Regions from separate parts of the Homo sapiens genome. Here regions 1 and 2 are each linked to region 3. Evidence: fine-mapped expression QTL. A gene starts in region 3. Each other region holds a variant in brackets. All regions are shown on one strand. Distances are from middle to middle.

Region 1 (8,176 bases), 41 kb before region 3:
AGACAGAGCCAGAGGTGGGAGTGATGTGGCCACGAGCAAAGGAGCCCGGCAGCCATAGAGGCTGGAAAAGACTCGGGAGGGATTCGTTGCAGGCCCTCGGAGGGGCGCAGCCCTGCCCTCACTTGGTTTCGGCCTGTGAAAGTGATGTTGGATTTTTGACCTCCCAAACTGAAAGAGAGTGGGAGGTCTCTTTTGGCATCCCAAACTGATCTTTCTTCTGAGTGGGACTTTTGGCATCACTCCAGGCGCTCCAAGACCTTTCCACATGGATACGCGTCCTTCAGTCCCGGGAGACTTTCCAGCAGGATTCCCCTGCCCCTGGCTCTCTCGTCTCCCCTTCCGGGAGTCCCAGGCAGCTGGATGCTGGACTTGCTGGACTGAGTCTCTTATTTTCTTATCTTTTCTCCTATTTTCCATATGTTAGTCTTTCTGGGTAATGTCCCAAACTATCTTCTAATTCTCTATTTATTATGTTTAAAAATTTTGCAACTCTATTTTTAATTTCCTAGAGCTCTTTCTTGTTGCCTTTTTAAAATAGCTGCCGCCTCTTACTTAATGGATGCAATAGCTTTTCTTGTTTCTCTGAGGAGATAAATTATAGTTTTTCTGAGTATCTGTTCTCTATATTACTTTTCTCCTCAATGTTCCTGTTTTTTAAAAATCCCAATTTGTTTTGGTGAATTTTTTGGTCATTTCCTCAAATATCTGGTGGTGGTTCGCTGACCGTTCACACTGAAAAATGAGACACCAACACCCATTGGCAAGTCTGGGTTGGGGTGGAGCTTGGTGGCCCCTGGTCCTCTCGCTGGGAGATGAGACTGGGCTCCCTGGGGAGCCCACTGCATACCAGTAGCTGCAGGACTCCTGGTTCCTGGAACGGAAGCTTCCAGTTCGCTGCCTGGAAAAGAGCCCAGTAAGCACTCTGTGGAGCCGAGAGGACCTTCCACACATTCCCCAACAGCCATGTGATGCCTCACCTCCTGGGCCAGCCCTGATGGCCGGGGCTGGAGCCTTGTATCTTGGGAAAGACGCTGTGGCACAGTGGTCAAAGGCAGGACCCTAGGTTCTGAAGCCAGGGGCGTGCACCGTGGCACTGACACATCCTAGCAGCGTGCCTTCCTGCCTTCGTCTCTGGAGCGGGCTGGGATGACTCCCAGGTCTCTGCAGCTCAGAACTCTTTACACAGGAGACTCACTGTCTAGCTGTCTGTTCTTTCCAGCCGGATACTCTTCAGGTTCAAAGCTGAGTCACTGTTTCTACCCACATTGGCTTCGCGTTCTTTAATTTGGTGTTGCCATCGTTCACCTTAAAACCCAGGGCCACCCTTCCCTGCTGCCTCTCTGCCTCCCATCTAATGGGTGCTGTTGATGCCACCTCCTAAGTATTTCTTGGCACAGTCCCTCTTCATTCCTATTCCCACCACCGTGGTTCAGGTCCTCATTGTCTCTTGCCCACATTAGAACATCTTCCTAGCTGACCTTCTACTTCTCATCTTTCCTTCTCAAATCCAGCTTCCCCAGAGCTGCCACAGTGGTCCTGAGCTCTCAGTTGCAAATCTGTCTCCCTGCTGCCTGGTATTTCCATAGCATCCCGACATAGAGGACACTGCCCAAGCTGCTGGTGGGGCCCACTAGCTCTGGACTGAGTCTCAGGCTCAGCCCTTAGGCTCCTCTCCCTGCCTGCACTCCCTGCCTCAGCGGGCCACGCCAGGCTGTTTGCTTCCTGCCTTATCTGCCTTTGCTCCAGCCGCCCCAGCACCTGGACCTCCTCCCCTCCTCTGCCTGCCCCCCTCCCTCCCCTCTTCTCCCTCTGGACGTCCCTTCCTCCTCCCACCCTGGAGTCTTTCCTTCAGGCCATCTTGCTAACTCTGCCCTGCTCTCCACGCAGGCGTGGCCCGCCTCATCATCCTTCACTTCTCATCTCTGCTGCCTCTCACTCAGCCTGCCCCAGCCAGCTGATCACAGTCCCAAATAGCGACATGCTCTGAAAGCCACCGCTGTGGCCTGCATCAGGATGTGCGGATGAGAGGGGGGTATTTTTACCATCATTGTGCTTCTCCAGCCCCTGGTGTTAGGATCTGTATAGGATCTGGTTATTTGTAGGCAACCTGGGTGTATTAGATTCCTACAGCTGCCATCACAGGGTGCCAAAAGCTGGGTGAAAACAACGGTGACTTCTTGCCTCACATCTGGAGGCCAGAAACCCCAATTCAAGGTGTGAGCAGGGCCGTGCTCTCTCGGATGGCTCTGGGAGGGTCCTGCCTGGCCACTGCCAGCTTCTGGTGTTTGCCAGCAGTCCTTGGCCTTGCCTGACTTGTAGCTGCCTCACTCCAGTCATGTGGCCGTCATCTCCTGTGTCTTCACATCTTCATTCTGTGTGTGTCTGTGTCCAGATTTCCCCCTTTTTATAAGGACACTAAGCATATTGGATTAGGGCCACCCTAATGACTTTATTTTTACTTGATTACCCTATTTCCAAATAAGGTCACTTTTTTTTTTTTTTTTTTTTAGACAGAGTCTCACTGTTGCCCAGGCTGGAGTGCAATGGCGCCATCTCGGCTCACTGCAACCTCTGCCTCCCGGGTTCAAGCAAATTCTCCTGTCTCAGCTTCCCGAGTAGCTGGGATTATAGGCAGCCACCACCACACCTGGCTAATTTTTTGTATTTTTTGGTAGAGATGGGTTTCGCCTTGTTGGCCAGGCTAGTCTTGAACTCCTGACCTCAGGTGATCAGCCCACTTCAGCCTCCGAAAGTGCTGGGATTACAGGCGTGAGCCATCGCGCCTGGCCCAAATAAGGTCACATTCTGACCTAGGTGCTAGGGGTTAGGACTTCAGTGTATCTTTTTTGGTGGGGGACACAATTCAACCTCTAACACCGGGTGACACCCGCTTGTCCTGAGCTTGACAGGTCCCGAAGTCCCCAAGGCCTCTGGGAGGCCCTCTCTAATCCAGCCAGCATTCATGTCCTGTCATCTTGGAACGAGGGGAATTGAGTGGGGAGCAGGTCCTGTGAAGCTCTCCAGCAGGGGTGGGGTGGCCTGAAGAGGGTCGGGAAATGTCCTGGGCCACCTGCAAGTGTCTGCTGGGTCCTGGCATCTTCCTCCCTGCAAAGATTGTCCAGTTCTGTTTAGAATTGAGTCTTTGGTGCCCCTAGCCTCTGTCGCCCCTCGCAGCCCTGAAACTCAGCTTCCCTGGTTCCCATTGCCAGGCTGCGTCTGAGTCCTTTTGGGCTTTAGTGACAAAATACCACAGGCTGGGTGGCTTTTAAACAACAGACATTTATTTCTCACAGTTATGGAGGCTGGAAGTCCAAGATCAAGGTTTCAACATATGGGTGTGGGGGGCACAGGCACGCTCTGCATTAGTCTGGGAGGTGCTTTTTGCTGACCTTGTCCTTCAGACCCTCTCTCTGTCCTGTCAACATCACTTTGGGCTCTAATCAATATGTATGGGACATTTGTGTGTCCCACTAGTGTGTGTGTGCTGTTCCCAGGAGGGGCCAAGCCTTACTAATCTTTATCTGAATGCTCCATAATATTTCTAGGTAAATCTTTTTTTTTAACTAATTGATTAATTATTTTTTGAGACAGAGTCTTGCTCTGTTGCCCAGGCTGGAGTGCACTGGGACCATCATGGCTCACTGCAGCTTCAACCTTCTAGGTTCAAGCAATCCTTCTGCCTCAGGCTTCCAAGCAGCTGAGACTATCTATGGGCACCACCATGCCCAGCTAATTTTTTTTTTTTTTTTTTGAGATGGAGTTTTGCTCTTGTTGCCCAGGCTGGAGTGCAATAGCACGATCTCAGCCCACCGCAACCTCTGCCTCCCACGTTCAAGCGATTTTCCTGCCTCAGCCTCCCAAGTAGCTGGGATTACAGGCGTGTGCCACCATGCCCGGCTAATTTTGTATTTTTAGTAGAGATGGGGTTTCTGCATGTTGGTCAGGCTGGTCTTGAACTCCCAACCTTAGGTGATCCACCCGCTTCAGCCTCCCAAAGTGCTGGGATTACAAGTGTGAGCCACGTGCCAGGCCACACCCAGCTAATTTTAAAAAGTTTTTTTTTTAATTTTTTGGCAGAGACAGGATCTCAATATGTTGCCCAAGCTGATCTCAAACTCCTAGACTCAAGTGATACCCCTGCCTCGGCCTCTTAAAGTGCTGAGATTA[C/T]AAGCATGAGCCACCACGCCTCACGGTGAATCTTAACAGCCTCATGCCACTCTGCAACCTCATTGTGACCTGAAGTATTTCTTCACTGATTCATTCCCTCAGACATTTATTTAGTTCTGGTCTTACGCACTGTACAGAGTGCCAGGGAGATGTGGGGACAAAAGAGACCAGGGATCCTGTGCCCAGGGCCCTAACAGTGTCTATTAAAGGAGACAAGACGGGTCAACAAATCTTTATAACATTAAATGCTCTTTGCTGAGGACACAGACGCCACGGAGACCTCATGGAGAGCCCCCTGAGCAGGACGATGGGTGGGGCACAGACAAGGACAGAGCTGAGGGAGGTGGCTGCCCGGGGAATATAGGGAAGGCATTCCTGAGCCTACTCCTATAGGATGTGGAGGAATGGGGACAAGTGACCTTCCCATGTGAGCCCTGCCCACACCCCGTGCTGCAGGGTCGGCAGGAAGCTGGCTCCTCGTGCGCCAGGGGGCAGTGTTGGCCCTGAAATTCTCACTGCTTTCCAGTGAGGCTGGGATGGAGCAGCCACCTCACTGCAGGCCCTCGGGACCCCTCACTCTGCTTTCTCTGAGACCCCCTTTGTCCCCCAGTCCACAAGTCCCGAGACCATGGCGCCAGTCGCCTCGGTGCCACCCTTTCCCCCTCGGCTGCTCCTTTGAATAGAGGGTTGCCAGGGCGATGAGGAGCCCTGCTGGCACTGTTCACTGCTGTTCGTCGCCGCAGTGCCACTTGGAGCAGCCGGCGCTCCTGGGGGCCCAGAGCCCGGACAGCTGAGCCTCGGCGAGCACCCGTGCTGTGTCTGTTTCCGTCTTTGGTATTGTCTCTCTCCTGTCTTCTGTGTCTGTCACCTGCATTGTTTCCAGCGTCCTCCCTTCTGCCCCCCCTGCCCAGAAATCTCAGCCTCAGTCTGTCCTCTCTTGGGTGCTTTGATATCAGCCGTGGCAGCCCTGAGAGCCAGGTGGAGTCGTTCTTTCATCTGTCCCTCTTGGCTGCCAGCCCTGGGGCCCGTCGGACATGTTTAGAGCAGAGCCGCCTGGGGAGAGCGGCCCCATCCGTCAGAGCTGCCACCGCCGCAGCCCCGAGTGCTCTGCCAAGAGCTCTTTCTTTCTGGTTCTGACCTGCTTTCACTGGCAGCTGTGGAGCCCAGCTGGGGCTAGGGGCACAGCCTGGTGCGGGTGCTGGTGCTGGGGGCAGCTGGGCCCATAGGAAGTAGGTGTGTGGAGCTTTGTTGGTTCGGAGGTTCCTGGGGCCTGTTTCTGAACCACACTTCTTTCTTCTCTGCCCTCTGCTGCTCTCCAGCACACCTCTGAGGATTTGCTGAGGGACCCAGGTGCTCTGCTGGGCTTTCAGAACCAACTTGCTGGCCACCCGCCCCTGAAGCAGGGCCTGGTCTTTCCCTTCCTCTGCGGCCTCTTGCCCACTGCTGCCCTCTGAGGCTGCAGGAGACGCTCTGTGAGGACAGGAATATGTAGGACGAAGCGATGTGGGGCCTCAGCTGCAGCAGCTCTTAGGTGGCGCCCTGCCCTGGTCCCCAGAAAGGCTGCTGAGCACTGGGGCCACGTTGTTGTCTGGAACAAAACTTGGGGGATGATGGCCTGACAGCAGGATTCTGTGCTCCTTCTGGTTGCAAGAGGCATCCTGGGAGATGTAGTTCAGGTCTGAAGTAGTGGGATTTCAGGGACATTTTGATGATTTATTAGACAAATTGAAACTGCCTTGGCTTATCTGGGACATGTGACTGCTGACATTGTTCGTCAGCTCTCGTTGGGAAGCTCTGAGTGCCACTGGTGGCCCTGCTGGAGGCCAGGCCAGTGACAGTTTTATCAGAAGTGGGGTTTTTGGTTTTGGTATTTTGGTTTCCAAGTGCCTGTCACACTGTGCTCCTGATGAAAGCCGTGACTTACTCCTTTAGTTGAGTGAAGAGTCCATAGGCCAACTCTGATGGGTCCGAGCTCCTGCTCTGGAGGGGGCCATATGAAGCGGGCTCCAGGCCGGCTCTGCTGGTGGCCTGGGTGTGTCACTTAATCCCACTGCACCTGGTCCCTTACCTGTACAGGGAGGTGATGAGGGGCTGTGAGGGTTACTGAGTGAGTCTGCGTGAAGAGCCACAGTGGCCCCTGCCTGGCAAGGAGCAAGGCTCTGCTGGGGTCACTGCCCACCATTGTGCCCTCCTCCACTGGCACTGGCCGGGCACCAGGTGGAGCTCAGTGAGTATGTGTTGTGTGCTATGGAAGCGGCAGCTCTGTCAGGAGCGGGGCAGGTGACGGCCAGGCCCTCGCCCTGCCTCAGCCTGCAGGTCGTCGTAGGTGCCTTCCTGACTCCCTTCTGGAAGGGGAATGCTGAGTTATTGATCTGAAGCTGAAGCTGGGAGGGAAATGGAAGCTGTGGAGTCACCCGAGAGGCAGCAGGGGAGGAAGCAGGTGCCCCACACACTACTGGCTTCACTGTGGCTCATTCTTGCTTGCAAGGAGTTATTTACACGTCCCAAGTGACAGTCAAAGCTGTCTTATTTCTTGGTCTCTTATGCACAACCCGAGGCCAAGAAAAGGGATCTGTCAGCTGGCATTTGCAGAAAATAGCAAGTGGGTCTCTGGGCTGTCAGCTCTCTGGAGAGGAAAACAGGGTGAAGGATCTTTGGGTGATGGTGGTTGCTTTTCTCTCACTCACTCACTACTGTTTCCCCATTTCTGAGGTCAGAAAGGGAGAGCTTTGCTTGTGTGTATCACCAGGAGCAAGCAAGACAGTGGCATCCCCCGAGGCGTGTAACTGTAACCTGAGCTGGTTGCTGGCCCTGGCAGCATCCCAGAATGCCCTTCACACCTGGGGCTCTAGCAGCCTCCCTTGAAGAGTTGCGGCTCAGCTCGAGGGAGCAGGAAACGGCTCTGTGGGTTCTGTTAGTAAAGCCCTCTGCATTTCCAGGGAAGCTTCTCAGCCAAACTTGACAACCTTGAGAACTTCTTGATTGCCATCCACCAACCAAATACCCAAAAGCAGGGTGCAGCATGGGACTGCAGCATGGGACTGCAGCATGGGACCGCAGAGGGAGCCTGGCCCCAGCCATTGCTGCCCCCTGCTTCCTGTGCCTGGCCATCGCCTATTCTGTGCCGTGCTGTGAAGATGGCAGGAAGTGCCTGGAATGGTGCCAGCCAGAAGGGCTGCAGACTGGTGGCACTTGCTGGGAATGTGCCATTGTGAGTTGAAAGGCTGGCATACTCCAGTGTCTGGGCTTGGTTTCGTACAGCCTGAGGACCGGGAGTGTCATTAATACCAGAGGCAAGGCTTCTGGGGGTCTCAGGAAGGCCGTCTCCCACCCTCTGCTGCCACTTCCGAGGGTCACCATAGGTGCCTCCAGCTGCAGGGGTTCCTTCTTCTATACCCCAAGTGCTGTGCAGAGGCCCCTGCTCCCTTCGGCTTTGGGGAATGGTCTAGTATTGGGGAGCAGGGGGAGTCTGCCCACCCAGCTCCTCCCTTTGAACCATCCCAGACCCCTCAAGCTCAGCATACCCAGAGTCGGCTTATTCCACCATAACCTTGAAGACCCTGCTTCCTGGAGAGAGGGTGGTGTGAGGGGGCCACGCCCATCTTACAGTGCGGTTTCTCCCAGCCGATGTTGATTCTGGAAAGGCCTGGGTTTCAGATCTGGGAAGGCAGTGCCATTCGATAAGGAAAAACTGGGTTAACCAAGTTCTAGGAAGGGTGCAGGCGCCCTGGGAATGCAGTGGTGTTTCAGTTCATCTTTATGTCTGTTGGGCCCCATCCGTGCCTGGCATTGTGTGCGGGTCAGGGAGAGACAGGTTGGTGGTGGGGGTCTTGTGTGACCACAGCGGTGAGCTTAGTTTCAGGGCCATAACTAGGTTCTAAGGAGCAGTGCAGCCCTCACCCTCCGTCATTCACAGCAGCTCCTGACAGCCTTCCCCAGCCCCACACTGCCTGCTGGCCAACATTTCCGTGTCTTCCGCCTCACTCGGCAGCACATCCCAAATCCATCA
Region 2 (8,176 bases), 41 kb after region 3:
AGTGAATCCAACATTTACACTCCTGTGCCATGCTCTAAACACAGCACTACACGACTCTTACCTATGGAGGAAACTGAGACTCTAAAATTCTGTATCTCTAAATCTGACCATTTCCAAGTTCCAGACCAAATTCCTATATAGCTCCTTACTATGTTCAAAGGATGTCTTGAGACACCATAAACTCAACATGTTTAATGTCAAACTCATCTTCTTTATCTCCTAAATCTGCTATTAATGTTTTTTTATCTTGCTGAAAGTATCATTATTCTGTCAGTTATTCATGGAAATATTTTTAAATAGCTTTATTGAGATACAATTCACATACCATACAATTCACTCATTTTAAATGTGTAATAAAATGGATTTTAGAATATTCAAAGAGTTGTGCAGTCACTACCACCATCAATTTTAGAACACTTTCATTACTCTGAAAAGAAGCCCCTCCAGGCCGAGCACAGTGGCTTATGCCTGTAATCCCAAAACTTTGGGAGGCCGAGCCTGGTGGATCGCTTGAGTCCAGGAGTTTGAGACCAGCCTGGGCAACATGGTGAAACTCTGTCTCTACCAAAAATGCAAAAATTAACTGGGCATGGTGGCATGCACCTGTGGTCTCTAGGAGGCTGAGGTGGGAGGATGGTTTGAGTCCGGGAAGCAGAGGTTGCAGTGAGCTGAGATTGTGTCACCGCACTCTGGCCTGTGCAACAGAGCCAGACCTTGTCTCCAAAAAAAAAAACAAAAAAGCCCCTCCATCAACTTTCTCTCTGTATTTGCCTATTCTAGACAGACATAGAATAGAAATCTGACATCAACCTTAGACATTCCCTGCCCCTAATCTCTCCCTACCTTAATAATGAACTGGTTACCACATTTTGTTGATTAATTCAGGTGATAAGTCTGGCCTTTCCGTGCCTACCACACTTTAGATTCAAGCACTCATTATTATTGTTATTTTATTTTTATTTTTTCTGAGGCAGAGTCTTGCTCTGTCACCGAGGCTAGAGTGCAGTGTCGTGTTCTTGGCTCACTGCAGCCTCCACCTCCCAGGTTCAAGTGATTCTCCTGCCTCAGCCTCCCAAGTAGATGGGACTATAGGCGTACACCACCACGCCTGGCTTTAATTAATTTATTTTTTTGAGACGGAATCTCACTCTGTTGCCCACGCTGGAGTGCAGTGGCTGCGATCTCGGCTCACTGCAACCTTTGCCTCCCAGGTTCAAGTGATTATCCTGCCTCAGCCTCCTGAGTAGCTGGGATTACAGGCGCCTGCCACCATGCCCAGCTAATTTTTGTATTTACTAAGATGGGGTTTCACCATGTTGGCCAGGCTGGTCTCCAAGTCCTGACCTTGTGATCCATCCGCCTCAGCCTCCCAAAGTGCTGGGATTACAGGTGTGAGCCACCACGCCCGGCCTAATTTTTGTATTTTTAGTAGACAGGGTTTCACCATATTGGCCAGGCTGGTCTCAAACCCCTGACCTCAAGTGATCCGCCCACCTCGGCCTGCCAAAGTGCTGGGATTACAGGTGTAAGCCACTGCACCCAGCCGTCAAGCACTCATTATTTTTAATCCAGTTCACTTACTTATTTACTTAGTATTACTAACTTCTGTCTCCCATCCGTACTCTATAATGCTGCTAAAGACTTCTCCCAAAACATTCAATGGTTTCTTACTATACAGAGAATAAAATTCACAATCCTTAGTATGGCACTCAAGATCTACCATATTCAACTCCAGACTACTTTTCTAGTCCCATCTCTTCCTCGTGCACCATTCATTTCATGCTTCAGTCATATTGGATTGTATGAAAAACGCATGGCATGTGTCACATTTTACAGTTTTCAGTTCCCTGGCAAAATTTTCAAGCTTGGCTTTCACATTAGATTATATGTTTTTATACAAATCATATATATTTGTAGATGCAGAATTCACATACTAAAGGCTTTCCTAAAACTGGGATATAAAAACCCATTTCAAAGATAATTGGATGGAACTTTTCATCAAAAGGATATGGAAACTGAAGAAATCCTGTTAAGCTGGTTGGAAGAAACCTTTGGGCTGGGGCACAGTGCAGCTGCTGGAGTCAGTATCAGTTCTCCCAACAAGTCCATGCCAGCCACGTCTTCAGGGATGAAAAGCATTACTGGATGTCCTAGCACAGGGTGAATTCTGCTGCAGTGTGATTCAATTGTACCAAAATTTGGTCTACTGTCAGAAAACAGACAAGTCAAATTTAACATTTTTTCCTCTTAAGAAATTATTTAAAAGAGCATTCAAAATTATTTTTGTAACCTCTAGCATATGTACAACCACACAACCTGCCATATCAGTTTTGTTGGAATAAATAACTTATGTCTCACTCAGGGAATCACAGCAATGGAAGTAGTAGAAAAACTGGCATTTCAGAGATATCATTGCTCCTGCTTTTGCTGCCACTAACGGATGCTTCTTAGTTTCTCTTTTTAAAAAAACATTTTAGACCAGGCATTGTGGCTCATGCCTGTAATCCCAGCACTTTGGGAGGCTGAGGTGGGTGGATCACTTGAGGTCAGGAGTTCAAGACCAACCTGGCCAACATGGTGAAACTCCATCTCTACTAAAGATACAATAGCTGTGCATGATGGTGCACACCTGTAATCCCAGCTATTCAGGAGGCTGAGGCAGGAGAATCGCTTGAACCTGGGAAGCGGAGGTTGCAGTGAGCTGATATTGCGCCACTGCACTCCAGCCTGAGCAACAGAGCGAGACTTTGTCTCGAAAAATAATTACTATTATTTTATTTTATTAGAGATGGGGTCTCACTATGTTTATTAGGCTGGTCTCAAACTCCTGGCCTCAAGCAATCTTTCTGCCTTGGCCTCCCAAAGTGCTGGGACTACAGGTGTGAGATATCATGACCAGCCTGTTTCTTATTCTCAAGTATACTTCCTCCACTAAAATTAATCTTTGGTTCTGAGCAAATTTCCAAATTCATTCAAAGGTCAGCATTGTGTGAGGGGGCCCATGAATCACAAATGGCCTAAAACTGGCCCCATGATACTTATAAGTCTGCTCTCACGCATGCTACACCTTCCGCTGAAGAGGTCTGAGGTTGCTGTTTGATAGTAACAATGAGAAAAAACCAGGCCATCTTTCTCTCCTAGAAAGAATCTAGTAAAATTTTGTTACTTTCCAATAGCTCTTTTCTAAACAGAGAGAAAACAGTCAACCTGAGAAAGCTGATTAAGAATGAATGAATTAATTAATAGAGAGGAAATATTAATGAACCTTTCCCTTTGTCTCTAATCAGGTCATCCAAGGAAACACATCTACAAAAATTGGCTCAAAGGCTTAAACTTGTGTCAGTACAACTATGATGATGAGCTGCTACCTGTAAGGATTGTTTATTATTAGAGGATCACTAAAGAAAGATATGGGGTGGGGAAATTATTACCTGCATATTAAATGACAAAAATATTCTCATCTGAGGTGTAATTTTGGGTGAGAATAAGAAAACAGACTAAGAACCACAGGCAGTCTCTTTAAGCCTTAAGAGACTTTGACTACTAGTGTTGCCTCTGGGCACATAAATAGAGGCAGAAACTAATGAATAAAGACTAAATTAGGGCTGGACACATTGGCTCACATCTGTAATCCCAGCTCTTTGAAAGGCCGAGGCAGGAGGATTGCTTGAGTCCAGGAGTTTGACACCAGCCTAGGCAACAACCTCATCTCTACAAAAAAAAATTTTTTTTAAATTAGCAGTATATGGGCTGGGCGCAGTGGCTCATGCCTGTAATCTCAGCACTTTGGGAGACCGAGGCAGGAGGATCACGAGGTCAGGAGATTGAGACCATCCTGGCCAACATGGTGAAACCCCATTTCTACTAAAAATACAAAAAAATTAGCTGGGCGTGGTGGCATGCACCTATAGTCCCAGCTACTCAGGAGATTGAGGCAGGAGAATCGCTTGAACCAGGGAGGTGGAGGTTGCAGTGAGGTGAGATCTGCACTCCAGCCTGGGCGAAAGAGCGAGACTCCGTCTCAAAAAAAAAAAAAATTAGCAGCGTATGGTAGCATATTTCTGTGGTCCTAGCTACTAGCTACTCGAGAGGCTGAGGTGGGAAAATGACTTGAGCCCAGGAGACCAAGGCTGCAGTGAGCTATGATGGCATCTGGGTTGAA[C/A]AGACTGAGACCCTGTCTCAAAAAAAGAAAAAATAAATTAATTGGACTTAAGCATATGTTAGGTCTTTTCTTGACATAATTCATTTTCACTTTGGATTCTGTGGTAGTTAAATGGCACAGGAAGGCAAGACAGAAGGGCTCTGTGTGTTCCATATTGTTTACCACCTCCTCCATGGATTTTTTACATTTTTTATTTATTTATTTTTTTTGAGACAGAGTCTTGCTCTGTCGCTGGAGTGCAGTGGCGTGATCTCGGCTCACTGCAACCTCCACCTCCTGGGTTCAAGTGATTCTCATGCTTTGGCCTCCCAAGTAGCTGGGATTACAGGCATGTGCTACCATGCCCAGCTAATTTTTGTATTTTTAGCAGAGACAGGGTTTTGCCATGTTGGCCAGGCTGGTCTCAAACTCTTAACCTCAAGTGATCCATCAACTTCAGCCTCCCAAAGTGCTGGGATTATAGGCATGAGCCACTGCGCCTGGCCAGATTTACTTTCTTGGAGTCTGAAGAAGATGGAGATGGGCAGAGAGATGATTTCCAAACCTATGCAAAATGCTGATGCACAGAAAATAATGTACACTGAATTCCTTTGTATTCATACTATCTCTCTAGCCAAGAATTCAAGTAAAGTTTTAAATTCATAGTCTTCTCTTCTCATGCCTAAATGGGATTGGAACTAGCAGGGTCTGTGTAAAATAAGGCCTGAAGAGAAGAAGGCACATGTCTTCAGGTCATTTAGAATAGATTCAAATACATAAATAACTTAAAATAGCAGTTTTCAACATAAAAAAAAGTTTTACTTCTGCTTTTCTTATAGAGAAGCTGACACCTGGCACTTACAAATGACAAGTGAGACAATTTCCAATTTCTACCCACATTCGTACTCGAGAGGAGAGTAAAACATGCAGAGGGACAACAAGGCTTTACGCCTTCACCTCACATAATGCTGGGAGTCGACCAAAAGAGCAATTCCATTCCCAAGGTTCAAAGTGGGTTCATTCTCCACCCTGCAAAGCAAAGCAAAGCTAAGCCATCTCTCAAAGATTCTAAAATCAATCTCTGTTTGACATAAATTTTGGCCCATGACTACTACCACCCCAGCGATTACTAGAATTCAGTAACTAATTAACCAAGGGGAAAATGGCAATCTTTAAGTTTACCCCCTCTAGAGACAGGGATGAATCTACTAAAATAATAAAATGTGGGGGTGTCAGAAAATTAGTTTCAAGGTGACTTTGGGTCAAGATATCAAACTGTGAACCTTTTGGAAATAGGACAATAATAGCTGAGAAAAATTGCAGAGCCATAGCATCATCTTAAGCCATAGACCTAAGAACTTACCCAAAGATCTCTGTGGAGAGGATTCCATTTACCTTTACACTGAAATGAAATCTGACCTGCAAAACAATAAGTTAAGTGTGAGATTTAACATGAGCCAAGATACAGATTAAAAACTTCCATATCTAATCCCTAAAGGAAAAGAATAAGCTTAAAAAATTTTAAATTAACATTACTTTTAATTGATAAACTATAACTGTATACATTCATAGGGTACAATGTGGTGTTTTGATATATGTATATAATGTGGAATGATTAAATCAAGTAGATTAACATCTATCACATAACTTACTAGCATTTTTTGTGGTAAGACATTTGAAATTTACTCTCAGCTATTTTGAAATATATAATACATTATTATTGACTATAGTCACCCCCCTGTGAAATAAGATTCTAAAGACTTATTCCTCCTGTCTAACTGAAACTTTGTACACTTTAACTAACAACTCCCTATTTCCTTCCTTAACCCACTCCCAGCCTCTGGTAACCACCATTCTATTCTCTACTATGAGTTTGACTTTTTCAGATTCCACATATAAGTGAAATCATACAGTATTTGTCTTTCTGTTGATTAAGAAAATGTGGTATATACACAATGGAATACAGTTAGTTTTTTGTGGTTTTTTTTTTTTTTTGAGACAGGGTCTTGCTCTGTTGCCCAGCCTGGAGTGCAGTGGTGTGATCTTGGTCTCCCAGGCTCAAGTGATCCTCCCACCCCAGCCTCCTGAGTAGTTGGGACCACAGGCATGTGCCACTACACCCAGCTACTTTTTGCATTTTTTTGTAGAGACAGGGTTTCACCATATTGCCCAGGCTGGTCTTGAACTCCCAAGGTCAAGTGATCCTCCTGCCTCAGCCTCCCAAAGTGCTAGGATTATAGGAATGAGCCATCATACCCAGCCTAGTCAGCCTTTAAAAAGAAGGAAATCCTGTCATTTGTGACACGGATGAACCTAGAGAAACAAGACTTTTTTTTTTTTTGAGACGGAGTTTCAGTCTGTCGCCCAGGCTGGAGTGCAGAGTGCAATGGCGCAATCTCGGCTCACTGCAACCTCCGCCTCCTGGGTTCAAGCAATTCTCCTGCCTCAGCCTCCCGAGTAGCTGGGACTACAGGCACGCGCCACTGTGCCCAGCTAATATTTGTATTTTTAGTAGAGATGGGGTTTCGCCATGTTGGCCAGGCTGGTCTTGAACTCCTGACCACCCAAGTGAGTGATCCACCCACCTCGGCTTCCCAAAGTTTTACTTCTGCTGGGATTACAGGCATGAGCCACCGTGCTCAGCCAGGAAAAAGACATTCTTTTTTTTTTTTTTGAAATGGAGTCTCACTCTGTCTCCCAGCCTGGAGTGCAGTGGCAAAATCTCAGCTCACCGCAACCTCCACCTCCCAGGTTCAATCAGTTCTCCTGCCTCAGCCTCCTGAGTAGCTGGGACTACAGGCACGCGCCACCATGCCCAGCTAATATTTGTATTTTTTTTTTTTTTTTTTTTTGGAGACAGAGTCTTGCTCTGTCACCCATGCTGGAGTGCAATGACACAATCTCGGCTCACTGCAACCTCCACTTCCCAGGTTCAGGTGATTCTCCTGCCTCAGCCTCCTGAGTAGCTGGGATTACAGGCGTGCGCCACCATGCCCGGCTAATTTTTGTATTTTTAGTAGAGACGGGGTTTCGCCATGTTGGCCAGGCTGGTCTCGAACTCCTGACCTCAGGTGATCTGCCCACCTCGGCCTCCCAAAGTGCCGGGATTACAGGCGTGAGCCACTGTGCCCAGCCAATATTTGTATTTTTAGTAGAGACAAGGTTTCACTATGTTGGCCAGGATGGTCTCAATCTCCTGACCTTGTGATCCACCCACCTCGGCCTCCCAAAGTGCTAGGATACAAGCGTGAGCCACCACGCCCGGCCAAAAAATACATTCTTTATCACTTGTATTTTCCCTAAACATACTTAATGCTTGCCTGTGTTTAAATTCTAAATCTTAAATATATTGAGCCCTATATCACAGCTCCAGGTTGTCACAAATTATCAGAAATCATCCCTGCCTCTTTGCCATTCTCTCAACCCCTATCCCTTAACTTTTTTTTTTTTTTTTTTTTTTTTGAGACAGAGTCACTTTGTCACCTAAGCTGGAGTGCAATGGTGTAAACACGGTTCACTGCAGCCTCAACCTCCTGGGTTCAAGCGATTCTCCTGCCTCAGCCCCTCAAGTAGATGGGACCACAGGTGCATGGAACCACACCCGACTAATTTTTGTATTTTTAGTAGAGACAGAGTTTCACCATCTTGCCCAGGCTGGTCTGGAACTCCTGAGCTCAAGCAATCCGCCCAAGTCGGCCTCCCAAAGTGCTGGGATTACAGGTGTGAGCCACCACACCCAGCCCCTTCACCTCCTTTTTAAAGGAACTATCCATTTTTATTTCTATTATTTTCATATGTGGAACATTCCATGCTTTTTTCTTTGCTTTTTCTTCCTCTTCTCCATCTGACTTTTATATCCTCTCCAGTGTACCTCACTGTTCTAATTATTCTCTCCATTCACCTATATTTTTCTTTCTGTGTAACATAAGGTAAGAAGTGACTCTAGAACCAGACTGCCTGAGTTCAAATCCTGACTCTTCAAGTTATTTACTCTCTGTACCATAGTTTTCTCAGCTACAAAATGCGGATGATGAT
Region 3 (8,176 bases):
AAAAGCCTCTACTTATGGTGACTCAGGGACCTATTTCCTCTTGTGAAAAACAAGACTGGCAGACTGTGGAGGTCCTGGCAGAGGCTTCAGGCCAGTCATCTTCCCCTCAGAGGAGATACGTCGGAGGCTCCATCGCTGAGGTCAGGGCCAGGGCCATGGTTCCCACTCCCTGACCCGTCAGCCAAGGCACAGGCCCCAGGATGAGCTGGGCTCACACCTGGTACCTGCAGTCTCAGAGCCAACCACACTAGGACTTTGGGGCATGGTTCAGGAAGGAGGAAGCCACAGGCTCCCAGCAACCAGAGCTCCCAGCCCATCCTGTACTCCAGGGAACTACCCGCCTGGATGCACCGCCCAGATGTCAGTGTTCAAGGTAGCTGGGACAGGTGGTGGGCACACTCCCAAGAGCTGCCTAGAGTCTTCACACAAGATCCCAAATAGACCGATTCCCAAAGGCCCAAGGCCATGTTACCCAAGTTAAATCTCTTTAATATCCCAATACAAAGTACTGATGCAAAAAGACAATGAGAAAACCCAGGAAGTTGGGGGGTGGGGGGTGGGGAGAGGTTTTATAAATAAAAAACCCCGAGCAGCTTTTCAGAGGCAGAGGAGCTAAGAGAAGCAGCAGTCCAAAGTGAGGAAGGGAGTGTGTGGCTCCTGGGACCTGCCCCTTGTCCCCTCACTCACAGCTGCTCGTAAACACCCCTTTCAAAAGGGGCTGCACCCTTTGGATATCTGCTTCTTTCTCTTGGTCCCTGGGACGCAACTAGCTCTGGCTTCAATCCCCTACAAAAATTCCTGAGATCTCGGGGACCCCAGCCAGCCCTTCCCCTGCAGTACCCCTTGGTGGGGAGGGCTGGGGAGCCGGTGAGAGTTCATAGCGTATCCAGGAGCATAGGTCAGGAGCACAGGGGAGCCTCTGAGTCCCCTGCCCGCTCCAAAAGCACACAAAGGGGAAGGCTGCCGTAGAGCTTGGGGTCCGTGAGGGGCTGGAGCAGAAGCAGGAAGAGTCCCACACCCAGGGCATAGCCTGCCAGCAGGGGCCGCCTCTGTGGGTGCTCCAAGGCCGCGCAAACAGCTGGGAAACCCATGTAATTGCAGAAGGAATGGCAGAGAACCGGCCCAATCAGGTGTCCTGGGGAAAAGAGACAGCAGCTCAGGGAGCAGCCCTACCACCTCCTCTGGCCCTTCCAGGGCTAGTGACCCTCATCCCCTGAAACAGGAGATCAAGATCCCACTACCCCAGCCATCCACCCACACACCACGGCCTCTGCTCCTTTCCACCTCTCAGACCTCACCAGGCTGAGGGCTCTGGCTCAGCCTGTCTCAAGGACTGGAGTAGAAGAACTTTTGTTCCTAGAACAAACAGTATTCCCATTCTCCCACCCGCTCCTGTGGGCCCCCAGGGACCCATGAGGGACTGAGGACCAACCTGTGCGGATGAAGAGGAAAGCAGTGTAGGCACCGAAGACAGCTGTGTAGGAGAACTGGAACGCTGGAGACGGGGAGGCCACGAGTGACCACACCTGCACGCCCTTCCTGCCCCCACACTACATACCCATCAGCCAAAGACCGACCATCCCCTCCCCCCGGGGCAGTAGCTGCCTGCCCCACCACCTACAGCTGTCCTGCACCCCAACTTCCCACGGTCAGTGGCCTCTCCAATACTGTGGCCCTCAGTTCCCAATTCCTTCTCCAGAGTGGCCATTAGCGACATCATCATACACCCTAACCCAGGCCAGCTAGCCAGGACTCACCAGCAGACAAGAAGATGTTCCCCACGCTGCTCTGGCGGAAACGCAGCTGCTCAATAATATGGTGAAAATGGGCTGGGAAAAAGGTGACAATCACATCACAGTCATTCCTCCCAGCCTCCCTTCTAGGACTGCCCCTCACCTCAAGCCCCCTTCTGAGCTCTCATGCTGAAAACACACCAGGACTAATCTGGCCAGACTCACCAACTCCAAAAAAGAGCGGGCAGGTGAACACAGCAGGGCCCAGGCCCATGCACGGTGCTAACATGGGCAGCATACAGGCCCGGAACACCAGCTCCTCTGTCAGCGGGGCGATCACTTGGTTCCGCAGCCAACGCATGTCTGTGAGGCAGCGGGCCCAGGAGCGGGGGGCTGCAGAGGGAATTCAGGACAAGCTGTGAGTGACGGGCTGTCAGACAGTGAGACCCCAGAGGCTCCAAGGGCTCCTCTCCCACAACTTTACCCTGGCCAAACTCAGGTTAGGCATCAATACTGCTGAGGACGGGGGTGTGGACCCAACATAAACCCAATGTCTTGAGATGACCTGAATGGAAGGCATTAGCTGAGGCAAGGGCATCCTGGAAGTAAACTCTGGAGACACCAAAATTTAAGCAAGACTAGCTCTGGTTGGGGAAGCAGGGGACAGTGCTCTCTGATCCACACCAAATACTGCTGGGGGTTCCCAGGGAACTCCTTGGACGTTGGCAATCAACCCTTAGAGGCCACCTAGCTCTATGTTTCCATTTTACTGATGAGAAAACACACCCAGAGAGATGACATTTCACGTGTCCAGATCACACCCTGAGCCCGCTGACTCCCTGCCCCAATGTCCTGGACTGCCTGTGCCTACTTTTCCCTTCAGCCTTTAAGACTCACCCAGGACAACCTTCAGCCCATCTGCCAGGTCACAAGGGCAATCCATAGAGAGCTGCATCAGTGGGCCCAGGAAAAGAATCTGAGGGCAAGAAAACACTTTCACCATAACCCACCGCTTTTGCCCAGACCTTTGCCCATGCTCCCTGAGACTCCAAGCTTGAAATCCTCTCCAGCCACGATTTCCAGACCATGCATACCGGAGGACCCTGGGGCCATCTCAAAAGTCCTGTCTCCCATCAACCAAAAACCAAAAACAAGAGTCCACGGCACTGCCCATCAGGCTGATAACAAAGACCAGAAGAAAAAATACAGCAGGAGCACTCACCATGGTCAGCAACAGGGGCAGCAGCGCCGCTGGGAAAATGCCCTCCAGCCTGAAGCCCATCAGGGTGAGCAGGGATGTGCCTGGCTGAGCCACAGGAAAGGGGGCATCAGTTTTGCTTCCTCCCCTAAAGACCCCTGAGCTCTCACCGCCGTTGCCCTTTGCCCCGCCTCCTTCGCACCTGGATGCCTGTGAGTTCCCTCCAGAGCAGCACGCACAGGGGTGAGAGACTGGACACCACCAGGACGCTGGTGAAGCGTCGCTTGATGACCGCGGGATGGTCCCTACGGAGGGGACAGTAAGTTCAGGGGGCCCGCGGCTGCCCATGAGCACGGACCCGCCCCCGGCTCGCCCAAGCTCCGCCCGCAGGGCGCGGATTCCGGTCGCGCGCAGCCCCCGCACCTGGGCAGTTCGCTCTTCCAGACGTAGAGGCTGCCCACGTAGGAGCAGGCGAGGCTGAGGCAGGAGAACACTGACACCCAGCAGCACAGCCCGGGGCCCAGGCCGCCCAGCGCCGCCGACTCGGGCGGCCGCTCCGGCCGCGACACCGACAGCAGTCGCAGCCCATCCCCGCCCAGCGCCGCCATTGCGCCCTGACCCGCGGCGCGCACCAGTGACGCAGTCCCAGGGAGGTGTGGGTGACGTCAGGCCGCGGCGCGGCTCCACGCCCCGCCCCGCCCCGCCCGGGCCCGACGCGGAAGCAGACGCGGAAGAGGACTTGGTGAGCGCGCGGCAGCTTTATTAAACCACGGGATAACGGCTGCCCGCAGCCTCCGGATCGGTGGGCGCTTGCGGAAGGGGACCCGGCTCAGGGCCCAGGGCTGGGACTCAGCCACTCTGACAGGTTGGAGACCTCCTGCAGCCACAGCACGTCCTGCGGGAACAAGGGGGCCCGGGGTGAGGACCTCTCAGCAGCGGCCCGTGGCCTGCACCTCCTGCTGAGCCCTTCCCTGCGCGGCCCTCGCCCAGTTACCTCCAGGCGGCTTCCGAGGCTCGCCCTGCCCGGCGCCAGGGCCCTGCCGTGAGCCTCGCGGTGCTCCCTTCCTCTAGGAGTGAGGGGGGCCGCGGTGGCTTCCGGGCGGCGCGGGGCGGCCTCTGACGGGCTCGGGGCCCTGGCAGAGCGCAGAGCTCGCATCTCCTCTATGCGGGGGCTGCCCCTCTTGAGCCTCTTGTTTTCTGCTTGCCCGCTGGTATCTAGGAGAAAAACAAGCCTCTTCATCTTACTTTCATGGCCCTGTGCTAGGAGCACCCTTGGCCAAGGGGAAGCCTGGGAGAACGGGCGCCGAGGGGCTCTTCCCACCGCATCCCTGTCAGCAGGTCCCATCCACACCAAAACCCTGCAGCTGTGGGCGCTTCTGGAGCAGCCCGAGGCTGCAGAGACGTTTCAGGGTCTCCCTATTCTCTCACCCAGGCGGGAGATTGTCCCGAGCCCTCACTTGGGGGACTCAGGCCGCTCAGTAACTTTCTGTATAGATTCTTCCTGGAGTCTGCACTGACAAGCTCCCCTCCCTGCCAGCCTCTGTCCCCCCTCACCTTTCTGGCCTCAGTTCTGTCTCCCTTTGTTGCTCACGTTGCATTGAGCAGTGCCCATAGGCAGCTTTCCTACTCTTAACTGATTCATTTGTCAAATTAAAGCGAGTTTAGATGGATAGATTCTTCCCCAGCAGGTCTTGGGGATGCAGATCAATGAGCTTTTCCCTGAGAGAAGCTCACAGATGCTAGGAGGGGATGCAGACCTGTGTACAAAGCCCAGGGTTAGAATAGAGAAGGAAGCCGACCACCTCTGGATGTGAAGAAGGGTTTCCATGAGGAGATACCTGAGCTGACCTTTTGTTTTTTTGAGACAAGGTCTTGCTCTGTTGCCCAGGCTGGAGTGCAGTGGCTCAGTCCTGGCTCACTGCAGCCTCGACCTCCTGGGCTCAAGCGATCCTACTGCCTCAGCTTCAGCTTCCAGAGTACCAGGAACCACAGGCGCATGCCACCACACCGGCTAATTTTTTTTACTTGTAGAGACAGGGGTCTCACCGTGTTGCCCAGGCTAGTCTCAAGCTGTCCTCCCGCCCCAGCTCCCCAAAGTGACGGTATTACAGGCATAAGTCACCACTCCTGCCCCAGAGCTGGGTTTTGAAGGATGAAGAGTGATATGCCAGACAAGGGAGAGAAAGGGAATTTCTTGCTGAAAGTTAACACAAACCTTATGCAAAGGCATAAAACAACTTCCTATGTAAATTTTTACTTTTTAAAGATGAGGTCTCGCCTGTCACCTAGGCTGGAGTGCAGTGGCGTGATTGTAGCTCACTGCAGCTTTGAACTCCCGGCCTCATCCTCTCGAGTAACTGGGACTAAAGGCACACACCACCTTGCCTGGCTAGAAACAGATTTTCATCTGTAGAAGACAGGAAGCCAATAAAGAGTTTTAAGCACTGGTGAAATATATTGGTAATTTTGTACTTCAGAAAGATCGTTCTTTCAAAGGTGTGGCTTAGATCAAACTAGAGACAGGAAGACCTTAAGAGCCCAATAACAAGTAAAGACAGTGGAGATAGAGGCGTCACCAGGAATCAGAAGTGTTCATCAGGCCTAAGTGATAGGCCTTTGTGAGCGCCTGGATGTGGGAGAGGCCTCTTGGCCGGGCGCGGTGGCTCATGCCTGTAATCCCAGCACTTTGGGGGGCCGAGGCGGGCAGATCACGAGGTCAGGAGATTGAGACCAGCTTGGCCAACATGGTGAAACCCCGTCTCTACTAAAAATACAAAAATTAGCTGGGCATGGTGGTGGGCGCCTGTAATCCCAACTACTCAGAGGCTGAGGCAAGAGAATCACTTGAACTTGGGAGGCAGGGAGGTTGCAGTGAGCCGAGATCACGCCACTGCACTCCAGTCTGGGCAACAGAGGGAGACTCTGTCTCAAAAAAAAAAAAAAAAAAAAAAAATGAGAGGCCTCTTGAATGAATCCAAGATTTCAGATGTGATAAATTGGATTAATCATGAAACAGACTAAAAGTCTCTTTAGTCAGGAGAGAGGAAACTGAGGTACCAATGGGACCTCCACGAGGAGCTGCCTAGTGAGCAAATGAATCTCCCAGCTGGCACTCAGCAGAGGCCTTGGCTGGTCATACCAATTTGAGAGTCTTGAGCCCAGAGGCAGTGGTCAACAGTTGGGATGGAAGATAGCTGGGTGGGAGAGCAGGATGAGCACTATTTAGGCATGACCAGAGGAAAGTAGATGAAGAGAAAAGCCCAGGGAGGGAAAAACCAGGCGAGTCATAGCCTTACAGTGCCAAATTTTGCACATAGTTCAGATACAATGAAGGTAAATGCAAAATTTGGTAATTAAGAGGCCTTCCCTGAGGAGAGAAGTTTCAGAGGCCACAGAAAAAGCAAGTACCCTAAGTGAGGGAGAGAATGAGAGGAAGAAAGGGAGACAGGGTGCATGCAGCTTGTGGTTTTGAGATCCTTGGCTGAGATGTGAGGGAGAGAGGTTGAGGATAAGTGGAGGAAGTTCAAGGTCACGGGAGATTTTCTTCTGATGAAATGAGAGCTTGACCTGCTGAGGGAAAGGAACTCAGGGGAAGGCTGAAGGTGCAGCAGTGATAACTGATGCAAGCAGGTCCCAAGAAAGCAGAAGGGACGATCCCACTGTGAGCCTGGAGGAAATGGGTCCCCACACTGATGAGGTTCTGCAGTGGGAGGGTGCAAGTTGGGTGAGTTTACTGAGAAAAGAGATCCGTAAGTATGAAGCAGGAGGCAGAGACTGGGTAGATTTTTTAAAGAATGGAGTAGCCACTGAGGGACAAAGGCCAGAAAGGCAGGGGGAAGGACTGACAAACCAAAGGCTCCTGAGTGAGTGGACCACCAATGGATGGTGGCATCAACACACAGTTTGGTGATTTTCTTCAGCAGGGCTGCCCATGTGAGGCGTAGAATGGATGCTGAGAGCCACAGGTCTGTAGGACAGAACAGCCCAAGCCATCCTCCAGGGGTTCCACCAGATTATAAACACCTAGATTTTAAAGCTCATGTTGCACACTGGAGAAAACATGGGCTTTGGAGGCGGCAAACTGAAAGTCATTACCTCCTGCTAAGCGTTCTGCCTCACCTGAGCCTGGGTCCTCTAGTTTGTTAGGATCCATGCCTCCCCCTGCCCCCAGAAGGGCACTGTAAAGACTAAATGAGATAAGGCTGTGGAAGACCCCAGCATCTCCCCAGGGTCCACAGAAGGTACTGAATTAAATGTTAATTTTTTTCCTTGTATGGGAAGATACTTATTCCTTTGTCTCTTCTGACTGCATAAATACTGAATTGTATGTATCATATTTGCATTTTTTAAAATCTCCAGATCTAAATTTATAAAAATAGATTCTTTGCTTTGTACAAGCGTTCACAGCAGGGTTCTTTTCAGTAGCAACAGCCCCCACAACATTTAAAACATGGTTCAGTTGACAGTGATTTCAGGGACACATCTTAGGCCTAAGCATAAACGCGTATGTGTTGTGGTTGTGACCCTAGAAAGAGGGATTTACCAACCAAGCATAGGTGCTGACGTCACGATCCCCAGCTTCCCTTGACCCAGATACTGTTTTATCTGAAGGACTCAGGATCTGTAGGAGGGCATCCCTGCTAATTCGGCTCTTCCAGAGACAGCAGAGCTAGGCTGCCTGGGTTTGAATTCTTGCTCTGTCATTTACTGGCTGTGTAGCCTTGGGTAAGTTTATTGATATCTGTGGGCCTCAATTTCCTCATATGCAAAATGAGAGTTAATAACAGTACCTATAGCTCCTAGGATAGTTTTGAGAACTAAGAGCATTAGTACATTTTAAAAGCTCAGAATAGTACCTGGCATCTCTGCTAGTGACTGAATGTGAGAGCTGCTGTACCCCTGCTGCTGTGGGCTGGGAAGGCTGTTTAAGCACTGCAGGAGACATGTATGGAGAAAAGACTTCAGTATAATTGCAATCACAACCCACGCACTGACACTTTCCCATAACACACATTAAGAGTGACATGGTGCCAGGCCGGGCGCGGTGGCTCACGCCTGTAATCCCAGCACTTTGGGAGGCCAAGGCAGGCGGATCACAAGGTCAGGAGATCGAGACCATCCTGGCTAACACGGTGAAACCCCGTCTCTACTAAAAATACAAAAATTTAGCCGGGCGTGATGGCGGGCGCCTGTGGTCCCAGCTACTCGGGAGGCTGAGGCAGGAGAATGGTGTGAACCCGGGAGG

Direction of the effects. Alleles are on the strand shown, and positions count from the first base shown. SD is a standard deviation of normalised expression in the study named. Not every link is listed here.
For the expression in prefrontal cortex of the gene that starts at base 3,554 in region 3, allele C in region 1 goes with a lower level than allele T (small effect, 0.38 SD a copy in GTEx).

Evidence for each region. PIP is the estimated chance that this variant, and not a neighbour inherited with it, causes the effect.
Region 1: its variant is fine-mapped to the expression of RCE1 in prefrontal cortex (GTEx, PIP 0.92).
Region 2: its variant is fine-mapped to the expression of RCE1 in whole blood (TOPMed, PIP above 0.99).

Annotation. Positions count from the first base shown.
Region 1 is chr11:66,879,820-66,887,995 of GRCh38, reverse strand. All of the region lies in intron 3 of PC (pyruvate carboxylase), which reads left to right. Among named protein-coding and RNA genes, the nearest start is that of LRFN4, 27 kb to the right of the region's middle. RefSeq lists enhancers at 4,545-5,282, 5,283-6,020. The variant C/T (reference allele first, on the strand shown) is at 4,168.
Region 2 is chr11:66,798,025-66,806,200 of GRCh38, reverse strand. It overlaps TOP6BL (TOP6B like initiator of meiotic double strand breaks), which reads right to left. Exons shown (of 15, transcript NM_001302084.2): 5 at 5,505-5,560; 6 at 5,099-5,170; 7 at 2,011-2,206. Among named protein-coding and RNA genes, the nearest start is that of RCE1, 41 kb to the left of the region's middle. The variant C/A (reference allele first, on the strand shown) is at 4,163.
Region 3 is chr11:66,838,819-66,846,994 of GRCh38, reverse strand. It overlaps RCE1 (Ras converting CAAX endopeptidase 1), which reads right to left and starts at 3,554. Exons shown (of 8, transcript NM_005133.3): 1 at 3,355-3,554; 2 at 3,134-3,236; 3 at 2,956-3,039; 4 at 2,631-2,709; 5 at 1,959-2,126; 6 at 1,758-1,829; 7 at 1,433-1,495; 8 at 443-1,135. The coding sequence starts at 3,539. The coding sequence ends at 900. TOP6BL (TOP6B like initiator of meiotic double strand breaks) reads right to left here. Exons shown (of 15, transcript NM_001302084.2): 14 at 3,926-4,146; 15 at 3,479-3,826. The coding sequence ends at 3,761. RefSeq lists an enhancer at 2,977-3,683 and silencers at 3,324-3,763, 3,874-4,013, 5,231-5,357.